7 linked regions of the Homo sapiens genome follow. The protein of the gene in region 5 interacts with the protein of the main gene of each other region in a pairwise test. Each region holds a gene or a part of one and is shown on either strand. Other genes may lie near its edges.

What was found.
Region 1: the proteins of HRH1 (region 5) and DHRS7 interact in a two-hybrid assay, tested with the Homo sapiens proteins (one large-scale study listed by BioGRID and IntAct).
Region 2: the proteins of HRH1 (region 5) and SLC35B1 interact in a two-hybrid assay, tested with the Homo sapiens proteins (one large-scale study listed by BioGRID and IntAct).
Region 3: the proteins of HRH1 (region 5) and ADGRA3 interact in a two-hybrid assay, tested with the Homo sapiens proteins (one large-scale study listed by BioGRID and IntAct).
Region 4: the proteins of HRH1 (region 5) and CNBP interact in a two-hybrid assay, tested with the Homo sapiens proteins (one large-scale study listed by BioGRID and IntAct).
Region 6: the proteins of HRH1 (region 5) and SLC43A2 interact in a two-hybrid assay, tested with the Homo sapiens proteins (one large-scale study listed by BioGRID and IntAct).
Region 7: the proteins of HRH1 (region 5) and LIMS2 interact in a two-hybrid assay, tested with the Homo sapiens proteins (one large-scale study listed by BioGRID and IntAct).

The regions. Positions count from the first base shown.
Region 1 is NC_000014.9:60,143,619-60,146,008, forward strand, and holds the end of DHRS7 (dehydrogenase/reductase SDR family member 7 isoform 1 precursor), read right to left. Parts: exon of another isoform or gene 1,396-2,390; coding exon 1,348-1,395; 3' UTR 501-1,347; downstream 1-500. UniProt on the Homo sapiens protein: NADPH-dependent oxidoreductase which catalyzes the reduction of a variety of compounds bearing carbonyl groups including steroids, retinoids and xenobiotics.
Region 2 is NC_000017.11:49,705,165-49,709,222, forward strand, and holds the start of SLC35B1 (solute carrier family 35 member B1), read right to left. Parts: upstream 2,801-4,058; 5' UTR 2,781-2,800; coding exon of another isoform or gene 2,670-2,780; coding exon 2,566-2,669; intron 2,281-2,565; coding exon of another isoform or gene 2,179-2,280; intron 1,905-2,178; coding exon 1,801-1,904; intron 1,171-1,800; coding exon 1,040-1,170; intron 733-1,039; coding exon 702-732; intron 118-701; coding exon 1-117.
Region 3 is NC_000004.12:22,436,067-22,439,566, forward strand, and holds part of ADGRA3 (adhesion G protein-coupled receptor A3 precursor), read right to left. Parts: intron 2,355-3,500; coding exon 2,190-2,354; intron 576-2,189; coding exon 374-575; intron 1-373. UniProt on the Homo sapiens protein: Orphan receptor that may have a role in planar cell polarity pathway.
Region 4 is NC_000003.12:129,173,897-129,177,396, forward strand, and holds part of CNBP (CCHC-type zinc finger nucleic acid binding protein), read right to left. Parts: intron 1-3,500. UniProt on the Homo sapiens protein: Single-stranded DNA-binding protein that preferentially binds to the sterol regulatory element (SRE) sequence 5'-GTGCGGTG-3', and thereby mediates transcriptional repression. Has a role as transactivator of the Myc promoter.
Region 5 is NC_000003.12:11,258,993-11,262,492, reverse strand, and holds part of HRH1 (histamine H1 receptor), read right to left. Parts: intron 3,491-3,500; 5' UTR 3,456-3,490; coding exon 1,992-3,455; 3' UTR 1-1,991. UniProt on the Homo sapiens protein: G-protein-coupled receptor for histamine, a biogenic amine that functions as an immune modulator and a neurotransmitter.
Region 6 is NC_000017.11:1,569,835-1,573,334, forward strand, and holds part of SLC43A2 (large neutral amino acids transporter small subunit 4), read right to left. Parts: 3' UTR 1-3,500.
Region 7 is NC_000002.12:127,669,031-127,672,530, forward strand, and holds part of LIMS2 (LIM and senescent cell antigen-like-containing domain protein 2), read right to left. Parts: intron 1-3,500. UniProt on the Homo sapiens protein: Adapter protein in a cytoplasmic complex linking beta-integrins to the actin cytoskeleton, bridges the complex to cell surface receptor tyrosine kinases and growth factor receptors. Plays a role in modulating cell spreading and migration.

The sequences.
Region 1 (2,390 bases), on a different chromosome or scaffold from region 5:
TACATATCCATGTTGTTATGTATGCATTTATTCCATTGCTTCTACCCGCTATACCTCATCGTGTACCTCTACCACATGTCATCTTCCCCCTTTTCCAAGGACAGCCACTTGGGTGGCTTCCAACTTGCCCAACAACTATTCTACAGTTATTTTATGTATGTTACTTTGGCTCCAGCTCAATTGTGAACTGCTTGTAGATAAGGACCATGTTTTTCTTTACCTGTTACTCCTGCTGATTTCCTATTAGTGCCTGTGCATGTTTTCTGCTGTAAGGTGTTAAATGTTAAAGTAAAATTAATAATAGTAGAAGTAAGGAGTTGCCAGTGGAATCTTCCTGAGCTGAATCTAATCATGGCTTTACCCCTTACTAGCTTTGTGACCTTGACCTTGGAAAAGTAAAACCTTGTTGGTCTTTCTTCATCTATCAAGGTAGGTAATACCATCTATCTTAGTGGGCTGTTATGAGGAATGAGTTAATTAACTAATACTAAGCACTCCAGTACAGTAGAAGACATACAACAGGTGTTTAATGAATAATAGGTGCAATGAATCCTACCTGCTGCTTCAAATTACAGCCATCTGTACCTGTCAACTTTTCTAAGAGTATAAGCATCTTGGAGGTAAGGTCATTTCAAATACTTCTTTATATCTGGTCATTACCCAGCACTCTGCTTTGTGTGAAATATTCTATACATTTATGTTGCTATGGTTTGGATGTTTTTGTCCCCTCCAAAATTCATGTCGAAACTTAATCCCCAAAGCAACAGTATTAAAGGATGTGGCCTTTAAGAGGTGACTGAGTAATGAATGAGATTAAATGCTCTTTTGAAAGCATTTTGCTCCTCTTTCCCTTCTGTCCCTTCCACCATGTGAGGACATACATTCCTCCACTGTGGAGGATGCAGCAATGAGGTGCCATCTTGGAAGCAGAGATCAGCCTTCACCAGACACTAATTCTGCTGGTGCATTGGTCTTGGAATTCCCAGCCTCAAGAGCCAGGAAAAACAGATTTCTGTTGTTTATAAATTACCAAATCTGTGGTATTTTGTTATAGCAGCACAAATGGACTAAGACAAATCTGTTAACTTAGATTTTAAGCATATGTGCTAAAGTATTTTAAAAGGTTATTTTATCCAAGAATATAGTATGAGTTAATACCTTTTTTGCAAGATTCATGGCAATCTTTTATTATTTATTTTTTATTTCATTCCATGTTGGAAGCAAAGTCATATCTATTAAAAAGTAAAATCACAAATTAGTCTTTGATTATTCAGAAGCATAAGAAGATTGCTGTTTTCATGTTTTCCATTTCTCCCTCCAGTGGCTTGAAAAGTACAGGTGCTCTTTTCAGTCATGTTTTGTCTTAAAGATTTTAAAATAAGAAGAGTCTGCATCCTGTAAAAGAGGGACAGAAACATGGATCAGTACCTACTCCTATTTACTCCAGTTTTTAACATTTAAGTCCTTCTGTTTTGAGGAGCTGTATCATTATGATTCACTATTAAGAATCTTTACAAAAGTTCAGAAACTGCTTAAATTAGAATTTAAAAATCATAGCCAAAATTCTAGATGTACACAAAAGTACTTCTAATGAGTTTAGCATCATCTCTGGTTTAGAGGAGGTATAAATAGCATTGGACTGCAATGCTAAATTCTCTATAATGACTTTTCTGGATCAGCATATCATACCTACACTGACTTGCCCTAATAAATAAAAACAATGAGTCAGATTATGTAGAATTGAGATATATGGAAGATAACTCTTTAAAATTATTTGTGGCCAGGCAGGCACTGTGGCTCATGCCTGTAATCCCAGCACTTTGGGAGGCCGAGGTGGGCAGATCACCTGAGGTCAGGAGTTAGAGACCAGCCTGGCAAAACCCCATCTCTACTAAAAATACAAAAATTAGCTGGGTGTGGTGGTGTGCACCTGTAATCCCAGCTACCCGGGAGGCTGAGGCAAGAGAATTGCTTGAATCCAGGAGGCGGAGGTTGCAGTGAGCTGAGACTGCGCCATTGCACTCCAGCCTGGCCAACAAGAGGGAAACTCTGTCTCAAAAAAAATAAAAAGAAAAAAAAATTATTTGTGAACTTTTTGTATATTGCTTAAGGAATAAAACAAGGCAACCTGATAATCCCCAAGATGTGATGTTTCTTTTCAGAAGATATGCATTTACCACTTTCAAAACTTTGCACTAAGAAAGACAAAATAATAATAATGATAATACAAAATTCAGTGTAGCCACTGTTCTTGATCCCTAAAAATAATAAAGATTCATAAAAACAAAGTTCCAGACATACAGACTAAAGAAGCAAATTCTAGTTAACAAGTACTATTAGCTTGAAATAAGCTATGCTAGCATTTTCTTAACTTAGACGCTTATCAATAA
Region 2 (4,058 bases), on a different chromosome or scaffold from region 5:
CAACAACTTTCTTGGGTTTGTACATGAAAAGGGCCACTCCAGCCACAATTAACAGCACACACAGGTACTTGGCCAACGGGTACTTCTTCTTCAAGAGGGTCACCCCAAGGAGCATGACTACAGGGAAAAAACAGAGTGGAAAATTCAGGCATCCATAAGGTATTGATGACCCCAATGCCCTCCCTCCCAGGAACCAAGAAAAGACTCAGGGAGAAAAGAATGACTGAGAAGGAAGGCTTAGAGAGGACAAAAGGAGGGTGCCAGGCTGGCACCTAGATAAGGATTGAGCAACAGGGTTAAGTATAAGACAGGGAGGAGGTAGAGAACAAAGGTGAAAAGTCCAGGAAGGGACAGGACAAGGGTAGGGAACAGTGGAGAAGGAAAAGAAGTTGAGATAAAGAAACTGATGATCAAAATGGGAATTAAGTTGTCTAATGACAATATAAACACATGCAACACAGAAATGGCTGACCAAGTGAAGCAGGCTAGGTCAGCCTTTAGCTCCTATTAAGGATTACCAGCCTATGAACATCACAAGAAGTGACACAGATGACAGGATGGGCAGCAGGGAGAGCTGGGGGAAAGTCCCTGGAGACAGCCATGATGGGATGATGAAGCCGAGAGGGACACAGTTGTAGCAGAGAGAGAGCTTACTATAGGAAGAGTGACGACAGAAGAGGAAGACCATCTTCTTTGCTTACCTGGGATTGGCTTGCAGGATTTACCAAGGACCTGAAATTAAATCCAGCAAATAATTTCTGAGCATCTGTGATGTGTCAGGTACTATGCTAGGTACCGCACTGATTAAGATGAGTAAGCACAGGGCCTGCACCAGAGACCTCAGCCTCAGAAAGCAGCCCTATCATGGCCCAACCCACCACCACTAAACGTAAGTTCTATGGTTCTATACACTCCCAATGTCTTACAGGACCGTTATCTTTTTTTTTTTTTTTTTTTTAACTCACAGACCTGAGGGAAGAACTCTTAGTCCTTTTCAAATGATATCTGAGCCAACCATCATCCCACCCTGAGGTTTCACCTGAGTTGGGTAGTTGACAAACTGTAGTGCTGAATTGCTGGAGACCATGGCACCCAGATAGGAGATAGAACAGGCAGCATAGAGCCAGCTCCGGGTACGATCCACCCTGGCAGTGTCAAAAAACTGGATCACTGGGAGAAGACAAAAAAAAAAAAAAAAAAAGAAAAGAAAAGAAAAAAAAAAAAAAACAAGAGAAACCTGGTGGGGCTAGGATGGACCACTAAGCAAAGCTGAAGCCACATGAAAGGAACTTGTCTGTCAAACAAGACACAAGCTATTTCTGTCCTGTTACACTGGGAAATCTCTGAAAATTATTCATCTTTCCAATTCTACCTAAGCCCAACAAAAGACCACATGCAGGGTGGAGGTGGGGGCCTCATTCAGTTCAAGGGACCAGTCAGCTCTGCTGCTAGTCCCCAGGGAACAAAGAGAGAATGCTCAAAGCATGCTTGAAGCTGACACACAAAAGAAACTCAAAGGGAAAGAAAAAAATGTTTTAAGTATTTTCAATGGGGATTTGGAATATAGAAGACCCATTCTCTGAACATTTCTAACTCAGAAGCTGATAAAAATTGGGGAAATAATATTTTACTCCACTTCAAAGTCATTAGTTTTACAGACTTCACAGAGAGGCTGTGTAAGTACAAAATGGGGTGGAGATCATGAGTTAGCCTTTAAGGTTGAATCAATGCTTAATGCCCAGCATACTGAGGGAACTTGGGGTGGTGGGGTACCCAACAAATTACTATCTGGGTACTCACAGATCTTGGCAAACACAGCATTGATCACACATTGAATGAAGACCAAAGTTAAGGCAAAGGTGAACGTCTCCTGCTTGGCTCCTTCCCCATACTTTCCTCTTGTTCTAGAAATGAAATGCATGAGAAAAGAGGGAGAAATTAGTGTATTTCACTCACTGTCATCTAATATATCCCGAGCCACTGAAAACTTTAAAATTATCTTGCCTCTCTGGATGTAGGCAGAGTTTGTTAAGGACCACTAGGCTCATTTGCAAAAGGGGCTGATTTTACTGGATCTAGAAACTAGACATCCCAGCCTACTGATTCCAAAGCCTAAGAAAAGAATACCCGAAAAAGACGGAGAGGAAACATGCAGAACGAGATAGTGAAATCAGGTACCCCAGGCAGGAGGAGACGGTATTTCGGCTATGGCACCAAGGCCGAGGACGAATAGGTTGTTTGCAAGCATCTGGGAGTACCAAAAGGGGGCCGACTCGGGTCCTGTTTGAGGAATAGAAGTCTCAGCCTGTAAAACGCAGGCCCTTAGAACCAAGCGGGGAAAAACAGCTAAGAAAAGAAAATAACCAAGTCCGAAGAATCCAGAAAATAATCCTGGAGTTCTGGAATTCTGGGTAGGCTCAGCCATAGCTGCAAAAGTAGTAGGGTGCTAAGAGGGCGACAGCCGGGCAGGAGGACAAGAGGAAAGCCCGGGTCCAGAGGCAGAAGGCCCGGGATCCCTGTCACAGGCTGGGGAGAGACTGTCGGCCCGCCCCCGGGGTCGCTCACATCTTTTCCTGCAGGATCCCATAGTAAAAATAGCAGACAAAGACACCCAGGAAGCAGAGCGGCAGGCGCAGCCGGTCGGGCACCAGGGAGCTGCTAGAGGCCATGAGACGCCCAGAGGAGCCGACTGGAGACCCGCTCACAACCGGCACCGGCAGCAGCGGCGGCGGAGGCGACAGCTCCAGCCGGACATCGCCGACCGGCGGCAGGGGCCTCATAGGAGCTGCATGCGACCGCTGTCCAGCAGGGCCCAGCAGTCACTACCAGAACTGCCGGCTCATGGCTGCCAAGGGGGAAACTCCTCAGAACCCAGCAACCACTTCCTAGGAAAGAAAACCCGCCCTGGGACCTTGGCTCCATCCCTGAGGGCCAGGGGAACCGGCAGCCTCGAGACTGATCCCTCGCCCTGGAGATTTTTCCAATCAGGCAACTCTGAGGACAACTGCGACCCAGAGCACCACAGGGTGTCCTAGAGCCACCTGGGCGTAGAATAATGACGTATAAGGATGTGGAGGCCACCAATTGGCTGCGCTGTGCGAAGACGGACAGGTAGGCGGGGCGGGAGGAGGTGTGGTCGGCAGAGCAAATCCAATAGTCTTTTCCGCGGCGGGCGGCCAGGCTTCTGCTGGGTCCTAATGCCAAATTCCTTACTGGAGCTTCAGCGCCGTCTAGCTGCTGCCCAGCGTCAGCGACTTTACCTGCTCATTACCTAGGCACATCACTAGGCTTCCAAGGGGGAGAGCGGCACAGTAAGTCTCGGCTTGGTCACTTAAAGGCGGGGTAACCTACCCGTGTCACCCAAGTTCTGAGCCAGAGTTTTCCAGGTCTGGAAACTAGGGATAATTAGTAATAGCCACCTTGTCGCCTCTTGGCTGTTGTGAGGATCAAATAAGAGTGTTTTGTAAACTGTAAAGTATGCTGTGCAAGCTTAAGGTATTATTAGTCATCACTGTTTGTCAGCCCTGATCTTATTTCCTCACATCGAGGGGTGGAAATGGAAGCTTACTGAAGTCAGTTTTCTTCCAAGTCTTAACAACTCACCAACAATGGCGCAAACCCTTCGGCCGCGCTCCTGAATATTTCCCATTAATGAGCTCCTCGTTGGATCCCTTCCTCATGCAAGTGTTGGGTCTTCACTTGCTGGCACGAATTGCCAGGGCAAGACTGACCTCAGGTCTTCCTACTACTACCTCCAACCCCCTACTTAATTGGCCCAAATCTCCGGCCACCTGGTGGACTCTGGGCTGCTCTCTAGGTCGAGGCTCCTCTTCTAGCAGCCTGCTCTTTTGGCACAGCCTCAGGCAAAGGAAGGAAATACTGGGCAGCACCACACCCATCGCTCCGGGCCTGACTCAATAAGGCTTTGCGGGGGAGCCAGAAGTCTTTTAGAGGGAGGAGTAAGGGATAGAAGATAGGGTGTCCCCAGCCCACTGTCTCCTCGATATTAGTGGCATGGGAAAGCCCCATACATTTGCTCTCTTGCTCACTAGCTTACT
Region 3 (3,500 bases), on a different chromosome or scaffold from region 5:
CAAAAAGCACATGAGTAGTTCAAGTATTCTAAGCAATCGCTTTCAACAAAGTGATTATAAAATGAATCCAAGAGGTGGCTTTCAATGTGAACTCGAAGGATGGTTAGGATTCTGTCTGGTGGATACAGATTAAAAAAAAGATATTCAAACAAAGGCACAAAGGGAGATGGTGACTGCAAAGGAAGGATTCTATAGAGGGCCTTGACTAGTGATTAAGATGGACCTGATCCTGAAGACAGTTAAGTCAACTAAAGTAAAAACACAAAATCCTTATGTTTTGCCTAGTATTAAAAAAAAAAAAAAAACTTATGTATTTGGTTTGAATACCATGTTTTCTCCACAACCCAAGTAAACATGAAGACTTTCTAGTTACCTGATTAAACATATAAAGAACTCTAGTGACATCATTTGCATACTGACAGCGAGAATAATCATCATCTGCCCAAAAGCCACCTCTATCACATCTGCGCCAAGCTTTTCTCTCATCCTGTGGGTTTCCGGGATATATCCCACTGCCATGGGTGTTCCGCGTACACTGCAGATATGCAGTAATGCCTGCCAATGTTCTGGGCCATCTAGAGATGAAGACAAAATAGTACAAGAAAATCTAAATGACACGGGTACATCAAGAATAACAACAGCAGAGAAAAAAATCAAAGATGAAGATGTGTCATGTCAATACAACCCTGACACGGGTCATCAAAACTGGGCTGGGAGAAACCTTTGTTATTTGAACTCTATGTCTCCAAAACTGAGAATGAAATTCAACATGTTTAATACAAGTTACCATGGATGCTCATCACAGGAACCACTAAATGACAGTATCAGTCACACCAAAACAGAATTCATTACAAAAACCACATAAATAGATCAAGCAACACTAAACTAAATCTTATTAATGCAGTGGGAATTTAATTGCATAATATCTTAAGGAGTGTCAAAGACAAATAATTCATTGATCTATAAACATTTAATTGCTCTATTTTTAAAAATGTAAAGCACTCAAAACTATGAGAATATAGAAAATCTACCATAAATAGTAAATATCATATTAGGATTATTTGATAAAAGATGTTGAATGTAACAAAATTACCAAATATCATATATTTCACTTAAAAGCATGTACTATAAATATTATAGATCAATACCTAATCTACATAAAAGACTTATCCATTGGCAATAATAAATGTTGATTTCCATATATTGATGTCAAGAATAACTTTTTTAAAAAGAGCAATGGCAAACTAGCTGAGATAAAGATGTTATTATTGCTTCTTTACTTTGGATTTAAAAGATTAACACCAAAGGGTTTTCCCACCCTTGAAACACTGAGGTTAGAGACAGGAGGTAACAACTGAACCCATTAGAGACAATGCAAACTGGGTAATAAACAATCTTTATGCTGCTTCAAAGAATAACATATTTCCCTTTGTTCATATCAACTATAAACTCATTTTTTAAATCCCTGAACATAAATAAGATCAAGTAAATAAGATATTTAAAGATGTCTTAAAGCACCTTTGAAAGTAAAGAGAGTTTAAGGTAAAAGCTGTCATCTCTTGCAAATCCTAAACTTTCTACTAAAATAAAAAAATAAATAAATAACTCCCTTTGCTTAGATTAACAAACCCCACCTGGGATTCCATGGCTCCCCAAGTTTCAGGCTACCCAACAGCTTTCATTTCCCAAAGTCCTTCTTGCTTGATTTCCAGAAGAACTGAACAAGGGGAGAAAATTAGATAGGTGTTTCTTCTAATTCTGATGCCTACTGAACTGCCAGTAGTGAAAAGTACCTTAGCAATATAAAACCTTCCAAGGTTCATCTATAAAAGAGCCACTGGGGGGAAAAAAAACAGAAAATACCTTACTTAACCTGTTTGAATTTTGTACTCTTTTACCAGAATATCTCCAATGTTTCCCTAAGGCAATGGCTCTTACACAACAAAACCATTTGTTAAAAATGACTCTACTTTCAGAGATTCTTCAATCAACAGGTCTGAGATAAAGTTCAAGCACCCCTTTTGTTCATCTCCATATGTGATTCTGAAATCATTATTCTAAAGGGTAGTCCTCAGACATGTGCAGTTCTCAAATTTTGTTACTCAGGACAGGAAACCAATAATGTGTCTTAGACAACAGAAGGATCTGGGACAAATTAAACTTTTCCCCGTATTTTCCACAACACTGACCTGAAGTCACCTTTGTTGTTTACCACCCTCTCTGGAGGACAGTACTGTGCAGAACTCTCTAATACCACAATATCCACAGTCCTCGTATTATTCCCACGTTTGGTCTGGACATGACAGCCCCAATTTCCAGTAGATCCAGCCTGAATATTAGAAATGGTTAGGGCACTGCATAAAGAAAGATTTTAAAAAGAGAGAAAATATAATTAGGCAAAAAAGGAGACAATAATGGGTCTCAATCATTAATTTAGCAAATATTTTTGAATGCATATTGTGGGGTAAGCACTTGCTATATAAAAATGAATTTAAAAAATGATTCCTTCCTTTAAATCCTTCAATCTCAAGGCAAAAAAGGAAAGAGATCTTTAAAATACACAATCAGGGCAATAAGAGACATATGAATCAAATGCAATGCTATACGACGCATGAGAATTCTCCTTGCAGAAATAGGGAGAGCAGAACACTTTACAGAACAGGAATGGCAAGTAATCCCAGCACTCTGGGAGACAGAGGCGGGTGGCAGGAGTTCAAGACCAGCCCAGCCTTCAAGATCAGCCTGGCGAAACCCTGTCTACACTAAAAATATTTTTAAAAGTTAGCCGGGTGTTGTGGCAGACACTTGTAATCCCAGCTGCTTGGGAGGCTGAGTGAGGCTGGAGGATGGCTTGAACCCAGGAGGCGGAGGTTGCAGTGAGCCAAGAGAGCACCACTGCACTCCAGCCTGGGTGACAGAGCAAGTCTCTGTTTCATACACACAAAAAAAGAACAGGAATGGCAAGCCCAAAGGCAGAAACATCGTCGTACATTCTTTAGCAAAACTTAGAGAAGTTTCCAAGTCACATCTCCCTTCTCACAGATTCTGAAGAAAATATTCAAACATGAAAAAAGAAGATTATTACGAATTTACATAATTAAGAAAATGTTTAAGGTAAAATATAAAGGGTTACACTAGAAACAAACCAGTTACCTCCCTAAAAAGATTTAGTAAATTACCAATTAATACTTTCACAAAAGGTTTCTGTGTTAAGGTATATTTCAATTCATAAAACAGCTGTGTTTCTAAATGGCTGTCAGTAAATCCAATTTCCAAGATGAAATCATAATTCTCTAATATAAAACCTATTAATTAAGGAGCAAATGTCAGAGCCTTCAATTAACCTTTATTTCCCCCACAGGACCCAGTATGCGTTGCTGTTATGTAGACACAAATGATAAGAAATAATTAGACAGAAAGTATGTATCATTTTAATTAACTTACAAAATTATGTCTTAAAGTAAATACACATTTGTCCGATCTCCTAAATCATTGACGGC
Region 4 (3,500 bases), about 120 Mb from region 5:
AAAACGCAGTCCGAAAAATGGCAAGGTTCTCCACTTTCAGTAACTGTTTAATCATTAACTTGTGGACAAATTTAGTGACTTAAAATTACACTGAAGTTGAGTTTCAAAAAGTTCCCATTGTCAAATATACAAAAGAAAATAACACAATACTCACTTACCCCAACTCTGTGTAATCTGATTTAGGATAAATTCTTAGAGAAATCTTTCTACTAACTCTTGCCACTTGCCTATGAACATATTACCAAAAAAATTATATGGCTATGAGTTACTGGTGCTTTCAGATATACAAAACATTTCTAGTCAGAACAAACAGCCAGTGAAGGATATTAAAAACAGATTTTTACAGAATTTGAAATAGTATCTGCTTTGTAATCATTCTTTTAACTGTACTAGTATTAGCATCCTAAATTATGTGAAGTATTTGCTGGTTTCCACCACAGAAGAGTCAGAATTAAAAAAAAAAAAAAAAAAAAAAAAACGAATGGCGGGCAGGGCACGGTGGCTCACACCTGTAATCCCAGCACTTTGGGAGGCCGACGAGGATGGTTCACCTGAGGTTGGGAGTTCGAGACCAGCCTCACCAAGAAGGAGAAACCCCGTCTCTACTAAAAATGCAAAATTAGCCAGGCTTGGTGGCTCATGCCTATAATCCCAGCTACTCAGGAGGCGGAGGCAGGATAATCTCTTGAACCCGGGAGGTGGAGGTTGTTGCAAGCCAAGCAATTGCACTCCAACGTGGGTTACAAGAGTGAAACTCCATCTCAAAAAAAAAAAAAAAAAGGCATATAAAATGGTCAAAGAAAAAAGGCTGCTTATGGCACCACTTCCTCCCCATCTTCATTTTGTATCTTCTCCAATTTAGTCAGATCAGCTTGAGCTCATTTAACTATTGATCTCAAGGAATTATTTGCACATAAATGATTACTTTTACAGTGTAATCCAGACAATTTGCAAGGCCTGAATATCTTATAATTTAATATTTAAACAAGATACATCTCTTTTAGAAAATACAAAACAAGGATGGGCACAGTGGCTCACACCTGTAATCCCAGCACTTTGGGACGCCAAGGCAGGAGGATCACCTGAGGTCAGGAGTTGGACATCAGCCTGACCAACACAGTGAAACTCCATCTCTACTAAAAACACAAAATTAGGGCAGGCGTGGTGGCTCACGCCTGTAATCTCAGCACTTTGGGAGGCAGGCGGATCATGAGGTCAGGAAATCAAGACCATCCTGGCCAACATGGTGAAACCCCAAATCTACTAAAATAAAAAAATTACCCAGGCGTGGTGGTAACGCGCCTGTAGTCCTAGCTACTCGAGAGGCTGAGGCAGGAGAATCGCTTGAACCCGGGAGGTGGAGGTTGCAGTGAGCTGAGACTGGGCCACCACACTCCAACCTGGGTGACAGAGCAAGACTCCGTCTTCAAAGAAAGAAAGAAAGAAAAAAAACTATTCTGTAAAACAGATATGCATCTCAGTGGCAAAGGCAGAACTTTACACACTAGAATATAACAGAAGTTTTAGATGTTTTGCTTTTTTTTTTTTTTTTTTGAGACAGTCTCGCTCTGTCACCAGGCTGGAGTGCGGTGGCGCCATCTTGGCTCACTGCAACCTTCACCTCCTGGGTTCAAGCGATTCCCCTGCCTCAGCCTCCCACATAGCTGGGACTACAGGCGTGCACCACCACGCCCAGGTAATTTTTTGTATTTTAGTAGAGACGGGGTTTCACCATGTTGGCCAGGATGGTCTCGATCTCCTGACCTAGTGATCCACCCGCCTTGGCCTCCCAAAGTGTTAGGATTACAGGCGTGAGCCACTGCGCCCAGCCTGTTTTGCCATTTTTAGTCACACATAATTTTGTTTACTAGAGTAAATTAATGCTAATAAAGAAAACACTAAGTCTTAAAAGGGAAGAAAAACATTAATAGCCTCCAAATGTCATCAACATGACACGTGATTTTAAAAGAGGTCTTTGAGTGGCCTTAGGTACTATGTATGCAATCTGCCCTCTCCTCCCTTTGGCTAACCCTATCGCAGTGAATCAGGTGGTCTACAGTTTCACTGGTAACTGGTCCCTTGTGATAGACTTGTCTCTTTAATAACATTATTAAACTAACCACTTTCCACAATGTTTTAGACTCACACTACTTATATTAGGCAGCAGGTCCCCATCCTAGCACTCATCTCATATGAACATTATTTAGTTTAAAGGTCTTTACAGAATTCCATGATATTCCTTAGGAAAACTAAGGTAAGGTAAGACAGCTGAGAATCATGGCTCCATGAGTCTGTCTCATTGCCTGTGACTGCTCCTGGCTGGAATTTCACTGCACTGTCCTGGTCTCCCCTGCTCCTTTTCCACCTGTCACAACTTTTTCCAACCTTCACGGGCCAACTCAAATGCCAACTCTATAAAAGAATCTGACTACATCTCCCAGCCTGGAACTACCCTCCCTATTAAGTCCCAAGACACTTTGTTAATATCTGTCTAATGGCAGTACCATATTGCCTTGTATCATATTCCTTGAAGGTAGAGACCAAGTAATTCACCTTTGAATCATCGAACACCCCATATAGTTATCCTTTTAGTAGCCATTATGTAACTCAGTATTTTAATTCTAGGGGGACAGGTGTCTTTAGCAATTTGGTGAAACTAACTGACCCAATCCAATCTAATCAAGTACTAACAACAAAGCACCTAAATTATTGCTATCAGTCACAAGAGTTACTGCACCATTAATTTAAAGTAATGATGTATTCTCAATTTTGTACTCACTAAGGACTGACTACAGTCACTCTCTGAAACTCTCAGCTTTCTGAAATCATAGGTGAGATTCTGCCCAGATGAATTTAGGATCCACAACTTTCAGCTTCTGACAGGGATTAGGGCCAACCACTCAAAGGACATTCCCAATGTAATTTTTTTTTAAATCCACTAACAGAAGTATCTTCTACTTGTCAATGTTATTTTGAGGATTCCAATCTATAATAAAGCAAATACTAGAAAATATCAAAGGAAGAAAGCTGCTGAATCATAAAACCATGAAAATTAGATTTCAGATTATCTAACACAATCCCCACGTGTGGCTGAGAAATTTACACCCAAGACAACTAAAAAAGCCAGCAACCAGGCCAGAACCTCTAATTTGTCATCCAGGTTCTGTTAGTCCAAGAATTCATAATCAATTGGATTTCAGTACTATTTTATGCAAGCTACAAACATACATGCTAACTTCAATAAAAACCAAAATACTGTTTTTCACTTTTGTCAGGCAGCAGGAAAACACTTAAGTTTCTTCCTTTTGCTAAAAACCACTAATATAAGGCACCACTTACTGAAGGTTCCTTGGGTTTGTGTTTTCTCTGGAAAAAATTTTTCGTGAAACCTGATGTACGTATACTGCACTGATGTAGCCTGCCTGACACTGTAAGAGATTTTGGAACCATACTCAACCTGGGTTAATCACTTAACCCAGTTTAACTACTTGCTGTGTTAC
Region 5 (3,500 bases):
GAAGTTTGGGGGATGCAAAGCAGAGTGAGAATGAAGCTTTTTACAAAAAGTAAATCCTTTTGAAAAGACATTTACAAATGTGATGAGAAACCAAAGAGAAAGCCCATATCAAACTCTGTTAACATTTGATGGTACATTTCAAAACATCTTCTTAGTCCAAGAGACTCAGAAAGGTAGAAATAAATAAATCACATAGAGTATGCTTTTAAACATCATATTTTAGGCAGGTAAAAATATCTCACTTTGACAGATCATGCAAAGAGGAACACAAAATACAAAACATCAGCTTGTACAGGCACTCCATATGCTATACATATTGTGGTTTAGCACCAAGCTTTAAAATATAAATCACAACCAGATTGCAACATAAACACCAAGTAAAACTACATGTTCCTATGTCTTTACTAGTTTTTGCTTACCAGGTATGGCTATGAAAGATTACAATGACTTTTTGACAAACACAACAGAACTCACAGATAAAAATGCACTTGGTTCCTTCAAAGCGTCCCCTTCCGTAGGTGCACGGGAACTCCATGTCAGCTGTTCGTCTACTCAAACATATCATTTTGAGCTGCCACCACTCTTGGGAATACCGTGTATGTGTATCTGTGCACACTTAAGAGGGCACATTGTTAAAATATTGTATTTTTTTTTTTGAGACAGAGTCTTGCTCTGTTGCCCAGGCTGGAGTGCAGTGGCGTGATCTTGGCTCACGGCAACCTCCACCTCCCGGGTTCAAGCAATTCTCGTGCCTCGGCCTCCCAAGTAAGTGGGACTACAGGCATGCCCCACCATGCCCAGATAATTTTTGTGTTTTTAGTAGAGACAAGGTTTCTCCATATTGGCCAGACTGGTCTTGAACTCCTGGCCTCAAATGATCTGCCCACCTCAGCCTCTCAACATGCTGGGATTATAGGCTTGAGCTACCATGCCCGGCCAAAAGGGCACATTTTTGCCTTTCGGAGAAAATATGCTACAATAAGCTGAAACCCCAGAGGATCTGTACTCTAACTTTCTCACATAACTAGCTATGTGACCTTGGGTACCTCTCTCACCTTGCTGAACCTCAATTTGCTCCTCTGCAAACTAGAGTTAGAAAATTACCCTCCTGTGGGGTGTTGTGGGGCTTAAATGAGATAAACCTAGTACAGCCCTCAAAAATATGGCATTCTGCCCCCATTCCTTCTTTTAATTTTTAACGTGCAACCATTCAAAAATATTTCATTTCTCTTTCTTTTGAGGATGTCTTTTGCCACCACTTTTTTAATAGCCAAAGGAAATTTGGGGTTAAAGACGATGGGTGTGCAAGCTGCATAATTTTCTATCCACTCTAAACATGTTTGAGTAAGAAATAATAAGGCAGAATTTCCAGGGTGGTTCAGACACTGGTTCTGGAGAAAGCTGTTAAAGAGGCTCAGAAGAGAAGTTTTCTGAGAAGGGATAGCCCCTGTGGAACAGCTGTCATGCCTCTCAAGGTGACCCCTGGAAGGGGACAGCAACTATTGGCATGGATAAAGTCTCTGCACAGTTATACAGCTCCATTCCAGGAGGGCTCAAGAGTCCTTTTCAATTCTCCAGTGGAACCCTAGCCACGTGTCTCTTCAGTTGTCAATCACTTGACTCGGAAAGCTTGAATTACAATGAGTCTGAGGCTCCCATAGTTCCTGAGGAGCAGGAGAGTTCCACCCAGGTCTGATTCTCTCTCTCTTTTATTTTTATTATTTTTTTCTTTTTGAACCCAGTTACAAGAAACAGGTCTGACTTTCTTGCAAAGATTCTGCTTCCTCCTCAAAGTTCAATCTCTCTGCTGATCACCGCCATCTGCTGTTCTTCTATGGTGCCTAAGAACTTTCCAAACTACCAAGCCCCTAAGACTGTGGTTTGGATTCCAGAAAGCCCAGGTGCCTGCCTGGCAACACACAGGCCTTCGTCCTCTATTTCCTTGTTGGACATCATAAGGATCATTTTGTTGCATCCCCTCAGAGCCTCCCTTAGGAGCGAATATGCAGAATTCTCTTGAATGTCTTCTTGAAGTTCTCATTGCACAAGGGGTAGATGAGGGGGTTCAGTGTGGAGTTGATGTAGCCCAGCCAGATGGTGAACATGTGCAAATGTTCATTGCAACAGTTCTTGCAGAAGGCAATGACCATGAAGAAGATGAAATAAGGGATCCAGCAGAGGATGAAGGCTGCCATGATAAAACCCAACTGTTTGGCGGCCTTCCTTTCGCGGTTCATGTGCAACCCAGATACATACTGTCTTGAATGCGAGCGGAGCCTCTTCCAAGTAAACTTGATGTAATCCAGGCCTGTGTTAGACCCACTCCTCAATTTGCCTTTGCCTGGTGCTGTCTCTGTGGTGGTATCTGAGTCCGTTCGAGAGAAGGATTGGCTATCACCTAACATCTGATCCTCTGATATCTCGCTGGCCCCATGTGTGTTCAGGCCCTGCTCATCTGTCTTGAGCTGGCCATGGCTCCGGTTGACGGCTACATAGTCCCTGCTACTCCCCTCTGCCGCAGCCTGCATGTGCACAATATCAAGTGGAAAGCAGTAGAGTTTGTCTACTTCTCTATCATCCTCTTGGCTGAAGACAACTGGGGATTTCATCTCCTTGGGGGTTTGGGATGGTGACTTCAAGACAGATCCACCACCAGCATCTTTTGGCTTCCTTTTCAGAACCTCCCAGGGAGACTCCTTCCCTGGTTTCTTGGCATCCCCCTTGGGGTTCTCTGGCCTCAGCTTAATTTCTGAGAAGGAAGGGAGGGACCTATTGATGAGCTCCCGGTGCTGGCAGTGTTGTCGTACGGCCTTGTAGATCTTGGCATAGAACCAGAGCATGAGCAAGGTGGGCAGGTAGAAGTTGATGATGGCAGTCATGACCTTGAACCAGGTGACATCATAGAAGTCTGTCTCACACTTGTCCTCTCGGCGCACCGAGGTCTGCTGCATGAAGTGATTCCAGCCTAGAATGGGAATAACCCACAGAAAAGAGAGAAACCAGGCCCCCAGAATGGTGGCCGAGGCTCGGGTCTTGGTACGATACTTAAGGTACCTGAGGGGCTGCTGGACAGAGCGGTAGCGATCAATGCACAGGATGAAGACACTGAAAATGGACGCTGTGCTGGCCACATAGTCCATGGAAAGCCAAAAGAGGCAGAGAGGACGGCCCAGTGACCACTTGGACATGAGCAGGTAGAGGATGTTCATAGGCATGACGACGGCACCCACGATCAAGTCCGCCACCGAGAGGCTGACGATGTACAGGTTCCCCACAGTGTGGAGCTTCCGCTCACTCCGTACGGCATACAGCACCAGCAGGTTGAGCCCTACTGTGACCAAGCAGATAGTGCTCAGGACCACCACCAGGGGCATCAGCTGGGGGCTGGCCATAGTGGTCTTGTTGCCCTCACACATCTTGTCTTCTAAGAGGCAGGAGGAATTGGGGAGGCTCATTGGCGCAAGAGCAGCCACCAGTTATGGCTCACTCCCTGGGAGAAA
Region 6 (3,500 bases), on a different chromosome or scaffold from region 5:
GGAGAGGGCTTCGGAGAAGGGTGGGGTCAGCAGATACAGACCTTACTTTTTTTTTTTTTTTTTTTTTTTTTGAGACGGAGTCTTGCTCTGTCGCCCAGGCTGGAGTGCAGTGGCACAATCTCGGCTCACTGCAAGCTTCACCTCCCGGGTTCATGCCATTCTCCTGCCTCAGCCTCCCAAGTAGCTGGGACTACAGGTACCCACCACCACGCCCAGCTAATTTTTTTTTTTCGTATTTTTAGTAGAGATGGGGTTTCACTGTGTTAGCCACGTTGGTCTCGATCTCCTGACCTTGTGATCCGCCCGCCTCAGCCTCCCAAAGTGCTGGGATTACAGGCGTGAGCCACTGCGCCCGGCCCTAATTTTTGTATTTTTAGTAGAGTTGAGGTTTCACCATGTTGGTCAGGCTGGTCTCAAACCCCTGACCTCAAGTGATCCACCCCGCCCCCGCTTCGGCCTCCCAAAGCACTGGGATTACAGGGATGAGCCACCTCGCTGGGACCAGACCTTACTTTCTTGACTTGGCCACAAGTCTGTCCTGCTCAGAGCTGCTGAAAGTGGCTCTCCTGTTGTATGGGCTTGGGTGTGGTGTGGTGGCCCTTTCCCTGTCCCAGCTGCCTTCTTCCTGGGCACTGAAAACGATGCTACCATTGTTTTTTTTTTTTTTTTTGAGACGGAGTCTCGCTCTGTCGCCCAGGCTGGAGTGCAGTGGCGGGATCTCGGCTCACTGCAAGCTCCGCCTCCCGGGTTCACACCATTCTCCTGCCTCAGCCTCCCAAGTAGCTGGGACTACAGGCGCCCGCCACTACGCCCGGCTAATTTTTTGTATTTTTAGTAGAGACGGGGTTTCACCGTTTTAGCCGGGATGGTCTTGATCTCCTGACCTCGTGATCCGCCCGCCTCGGCCTCCCAAAGTGCTGGGATTACAGGCGTGAGCCACCGCGCCCGGCCAAATGCTACCATTGTTAAGTGCCAGGCGTCCCACCATGCGGGTCTTCACTGCGTATCCACGTAGCTGCACCACGCAGGCATTCTTTCCTCCCTTTTGCAGATGATGGCACCAAAGTTCAAGACTCGCCCAGGGCCACCAAGACAGTCCTCTAGACTTTGGTCTTCCCTCCTTGCCTCCTCGGCCTGGGGTGGTGGCGCCTCGGTCTGAGAAGGGTCGAGGTCTGGGTGCTGCTAGTGGCCCTGGCTCAGTCTCAGAGCTGCCCGGAGGGGGTGAGGATGGCTAACTTAAGGAGCACAGGCAGAGGCTTCCTGCTGGCAGGAAGAGGGCTGAGCTGCGGAAGGCCACCCAGGTGGAGTGTGCTGCACCTCCTTCAGTGGCCTTCAGGAGCTCTGTCCTCACCCAGGGATTGGGGTGAGTCAGGGCATGGGGAAACAGGCTCACAGAGCCCACCTGCTCACCCTGACCACCCCACCCCAGGGGACCCCAGGCTCCTAACTCTCAGAATCCCACAGTCTGTATTGGCGGAAGACGGGCTGGCACCCTTGAGTTAGGCCCCCAGTCGTTGGCACAGATAAGGGGAGCTGCTGCTGAAGGAGCCCGACGGCTGATTCTGTGGAGGCTTCTCAGAGCTCCTGGCAGGAGCCCCTCACCGCAGGAGGCCCACAACCCCTCCCAGCTGCATATCGGCTCACATTCACGCGGCTGCCACACAAGTGCGTCGGAAACTCCACTTGGCTGAACGTGATTGTGCTGCTGTCTGGGACAGTCTTATGCACGTGAGCCCAATACTGGATGTCCCGCCATTTTCAGCCCTGGGGCCTATGGCAAAGTGACGCCCCCCTCGGAGTGCACGGCAGGCAAGGAAGGTTTAAACGGAAGTTCTGACCAGGACGATGCTGGGTGCAAGAGGGGACGGGGATGGAGCAAAACAGAAAGGATCCACCAGGGCCTGCAACCACGTCTTTGGCCCCGGTGAGGGGTGGGACCTTGTGTATAGGTCCAGGCAGCAGCAGCTGCAGACAGAGGCCTAGAGGGTTTGGAGAAGGCCGACCACAAAGACACGCCTAGACCCCAGAGTCTAGTGAGGAGAGGGACTGGGGGCAGTGTTTCGGCAGCAGACCCAGACCCAGACTCAGACCCAAGCCCCCCTCCTCACTGATCAAAACCCCAAGGGCAGGGAGCCCTTCCTGCTCCTTCCCGCCAGAGCCTGGAGGATGAGGGGCAGACGGGAGGCCCGGCCACTGGTGCCTGCTCCTTTGATCAGCTGTAGTCCCTTCCCCTTCACAGGGCACTTGTCTTGCTGGTTGGGGTCACCAGGGATTGCTCCCCCAAGTACCCATCAGCCTCCAGGGCCCAAATGATTCCATGCAGTAGCTCTCTCCCCCTCTTCTGAGAAGGCTCTTGGCTCCCAGAAACGGAAACCATGCCTGGGCCTGCTCCCCTTCCTTGGGCTGTGACCCCCCTGCCACAGAGGCCCCCCCCCCGCCACAGAGGTCCCCCCTGCCACAGAGGTCCCCCTGCCACAGAGGCCTGGTGGCCCCTGAGCTGCTGCTCCGAGTGGAATGTCCTGGTCTAGAGGCCCTTGGCTGCTCCAGTGTCTTAAGACCCATATATGAGTGCTGGCTCTGACCTTGAACAAGCTCCTCCATCGCTCCAGGCCTCGTTTTTCAGGTGTATATGATGATAGTATCTCTAGGCCTCGTTTTTCAGTTGTAAAGCAGGGATGATCATATGTGTTTAACTCCCAGATTGTTATCAAGTCAAGGACAACAATAGGAAAACATGTCACCTGTCAGCTCCACACAAGGCAAAGTAGGATGGGTGACCCCTGACTAGGGGGTGGGAGTGCAGGGGGCACCCGACCCATCTGGCCAGCCACAGCCTCTGTACCCTGCTCGCATTTTCAGGCCTCAATCCCCAAGCACTGTTGGCCCTGGACTGTTTCCCCCCCTCAATTCTGTTTCTCAATGCCTGCTTCTTCCCAGTAAGTGCCACACCCTGAGGGTGGGTGGGAGAGTGAGGCAGCACTGCCCACTTTGGCTGGGACTGGGCACTGCTGGGGACAGCACGGGCCACGTCTTCCCCATCTCAAGACTGGCTTTTTGGCTAGGCATTGTGACTCACGCCTGTAATCTCAGCACTTTGGGAGGCTGAGGTGGGAGAATTGCTTCAGCCCAGGAGTTCCAGACCAGCCTGGGCAAAATAGCAAGAATTCATCTTTATGAAAAAGAAAAAAAAAATTAGCCAGGCATGGTGGCACACACTTATAGTCCCAGATACTTAGGAGGCCGAGGTGGGAGGATCCCTTGAGCCCATGAGTTGGAGGCCGTGGTGAGCTATCAGTTGCACCACTGCACTCCAGCCTGGATGGCAGAGCAAGACCCCAACTCAAAAAAAAAAAAAAAAAAAAAAAGGCGGCCTTTTCCCAGCTGGCAGCACCCTGGCTAGTTAGGGTTTCTCCGAATCTGCAACTCCTGTGTGATGGCGGGTCTCAAATGCTGGCAGCAGAGTCACCGGTCAGCGGCAAGACCTGGAGTCTCCATTTGGA
Region 7 (3,500 bases), on a different chromosome or scaffold from region 5:
TGCAATGTACCAAGATCTTGCCACTGCACTCCAGCCTGGGTGAAAGAGTGAAACCCTGTCTCGAGAGTCCAAAAATAATCCCATATATTTGTGGTCAACTGATTTTTGACAAGAGTGCCAAGACCATTCAATGGGGCGAAGAGTAGTCTTATCAACAAATGATGCTAGGACAACTGGATAGCTACATGCTAACAGTATAAAACTCCTAGAAGAAAACAGATGTTTTCATTTCATGAGCCAGGATTAGGCAATAGTTTCCTAAACATGACAAAAAAAACTCAAGCAACTAAAGAATAAGGAAATAAATTGGATTTCATTAAAAGTTAAAACGTGTGTATCAAACGACACAATCAAGAAAGTGAAAAGATGATCCACAGAAAAGGAAAAAATATTTGTAAATCGGCTGGGCACGGTGGCTCGTGCCTGTAATCCCAGCACTTTGGGAGGCTGAAGCGGGAGGATCACCTGAGGTCAGGAGTTTGAGACCAGCCTGGCCAACATGGTGAAACCCCATCTCTACTAAAAATACAAAAAAAAAATAGCCAGGCATGGTGGCACACGCCTGTAGTCCCAGCTACTGGAGGGGCTGAGGCAGAAGAATCGCTTGAACCCAGGAGGCGGAGGTTGCAGTGAGCTGAGATTGCACTACTGCACTCCAGCCTGGGCGACACAGTGAGACTCCATCTTAAAAAAAAAAAATTTGCAAATCATATGTCTGAGAAGTGTCTAGTATTCAAATAAATAAGGAACTCTTACAATTCAACAATAAAAAGACAACCCGATTTAAAAAATGGGCAAAGAGTTTGAATGGACATTTTTCCAAAGAGGATTTACAAGTGGCCAACAGATACATGAAAAGATGCTCAACATTATCAGTCATTAGGGAAATGGAAATCAAAACCACAATATGACACCACTTCACACCTACTAAACCGGACAACAATAACAAGCATCAGCAAGGATGTCGGGAAATTGGAACCTTCATACATTCCTGGTGTAAAATTTAATAAATGTAAAATTGTTCAATTACTTGGAAAACAGCTTGATAATTCCTCAAAAAGTTTAACATAGAGTTACCATATGCCAGCAATTCCAGTCCTAGGTATATATTCAAGGAGAAAATGTATGTTCACACCAAAACTTGTATGGGAATGTTCATAGCAGTATTATTCACGGTAGCCAAAAAGTGGAAACAATGCAAATGTCTACCACGGATGAAGGAAGAAACAAACTATGGCACAATGGAATATTATTCACCCAGAAAAAGGAATGAAGTACTGATTCATGCTACAATATACGGATGAATCTTGGAAATATGTTGTTAATAAATGAAAGAAGCCAGGCACAAAAGGCTATATAATATATGGCTCCATTTATGTGAAATGTCCAGAACAGACAAATCTGTAGAGACAGAAGGCAGGTTACTGGTGGCCAGGGCTGGGAGGAGGGGGAAATGAGGACTGTCTGCAAATGAGTACAAGGTTTCTTTTAGGAATGATTAAAATGTTCTGGAATTAATGGTGATGGTTGCACAGCCTTGTGAATGCACGAAAAACCACTGAATTTTACAATCTAAAGTGGTGAATTTAATAATATGTGAACTATGTCTCAGATTTTAAAAAACACGTGAGTAATGAAGAATGCAACTACATGGCTTCTTAGAGGCTGGAACTGAGGCCCCAAGCTATGAGGCAGGGCTGCCTCCCCAAGGCCCTGGGGCACGTGCCCTCAGCCCAGTGGGCAGAGGCAGAGACGGACAGAGGCAGAGATGCCACAAACAGGCTGTCCTCCAGAGCCAGCTCCCCCACCAGACTCCTCGCTGGGAGGCTGAAGACAACTCCATGAGTTTCCCGTGTATTCCTCCAAGGACGTGGGTGAGGACACAGTAGGTTTTATGTTCATATGTGTATTCAGTCACCTCATCTCAGCAAGACATATGCATTCACTCATGGAGGTATCTCACTAGGGTGGTCATCCTGCTAAGTCATCTAAGTAAATATTCACCTTCAGAAATGTACACGCTACACCTCAACAGAACAAGCAAGACAGTGACAGTGCCTCCCTTGGCCCCTTTCCCACCTGGAAGTGAAGACCTAAGGGATGGTTAAGCCTGCATGCAGGCTGGGCACGGTTGTTCACGCCTGTAATCACAGCACTTTGGGAGGCCAAGGTGGGTGGATCAAGAGGTCAGAAGATCAAGACCACCATGGCCAACACGGTAAAACCCCATCTCCAATAAAAATACAAAAAAAATTAGCCGGTTGTGGTGGTATGCACCTGTAGTCCCAGCTACTTGGGAGGCTGAGGCAAGAGAATTGCTTGAACCTGGGAGGCAGAGGTTGCAGTGAGCTGAGATCACGCCACTGCACTCCAGCTTGGGTGACAGAGCGAGACTCCATCTCAAAAAAAAAAAAAAGAGCCTGCATGCGGCACAGCACAGATAGGGACAGACAGAAGAAGGATAACCCGCTGTGGATAGAAAGCCCGGGCTCCTCTCCCCAGTGGCTCCCTGGGCTGTCCCTTGCCAGTTCACAAGTGCTGACTGTTAACTATTCAGGAATTCCGTAAAGCGTTAATGCCATGTTGGTGGCTTGAAATGAGCCCAGGTGGGGGTATCACACCACGGGACTGGACACCCTGCAGATCAGTCCCTCCATCCCTATTATGCCACTGGCCGGCTAGAAGGGGCCAGTCAGCACCAGAAGTAGAAGAAAAAGGAAGGAGGTGAGGGGCCATGGCAGTGCCACCTGGCCCAGTCTGGGGCTCAGGGCTCAGTGGTGCCACATCACAAGCCACATCACTTGTTACCCACTTTACAGTTTGCTTAAGCCCCTGACGCCACTGCAGCCTCGTGTGCTGTGCTGAGGGCTCTAGCTGCAGTCAGCTGCCCCTTGGCCGACACCTTCTGCCTAGGGGACCACCGGGCACACTCCTCACCCGGAGGAGGGGCAAGATTGGTGGATATGAGGGCAGGGATCTAGCAGCCTGCTCTGCGCTGTACTAAGCATGGGCTCAGCACACAATCAGGCATACGACAGCCTCACATGTGACACACATGACGGTCACACCATGGGTGGGACTCCACTTTATGCAGCCAAGCCACTGAGCTCACGTGGCCGTGGGTGTCAACATCCCAGGCTCCATTTCCAGGAATGCCAGGGACAGCTGGGTCCCTAGGTAGGTGGCCTTAATATCCTCCCTGTAGAACAATGGTGATGCCAGAGGTCCCTTCAGCTGTGATAGTCAAAGATCTTGTGGTTGTAAGTTGCAAAGTCCCTGAGTTGCTGCTGAGGCCGAGCCCCCTCTCTTCCCACGGCGTGCCACCCCATGCTCTGGGCTGCCTTCACTCCCTGCCCAGCTGGCTACTCCTGGGCTTCAGCCCCTCCATGCCCAGGTGCCTCCCACGGCTCCCCCTCAGACTTGCCACAGCTCTTCAAGCACTCCACAACCACACCAAGCATGCCATCCACCCCCACCTGTCATCACAGGAGGGGCATCCT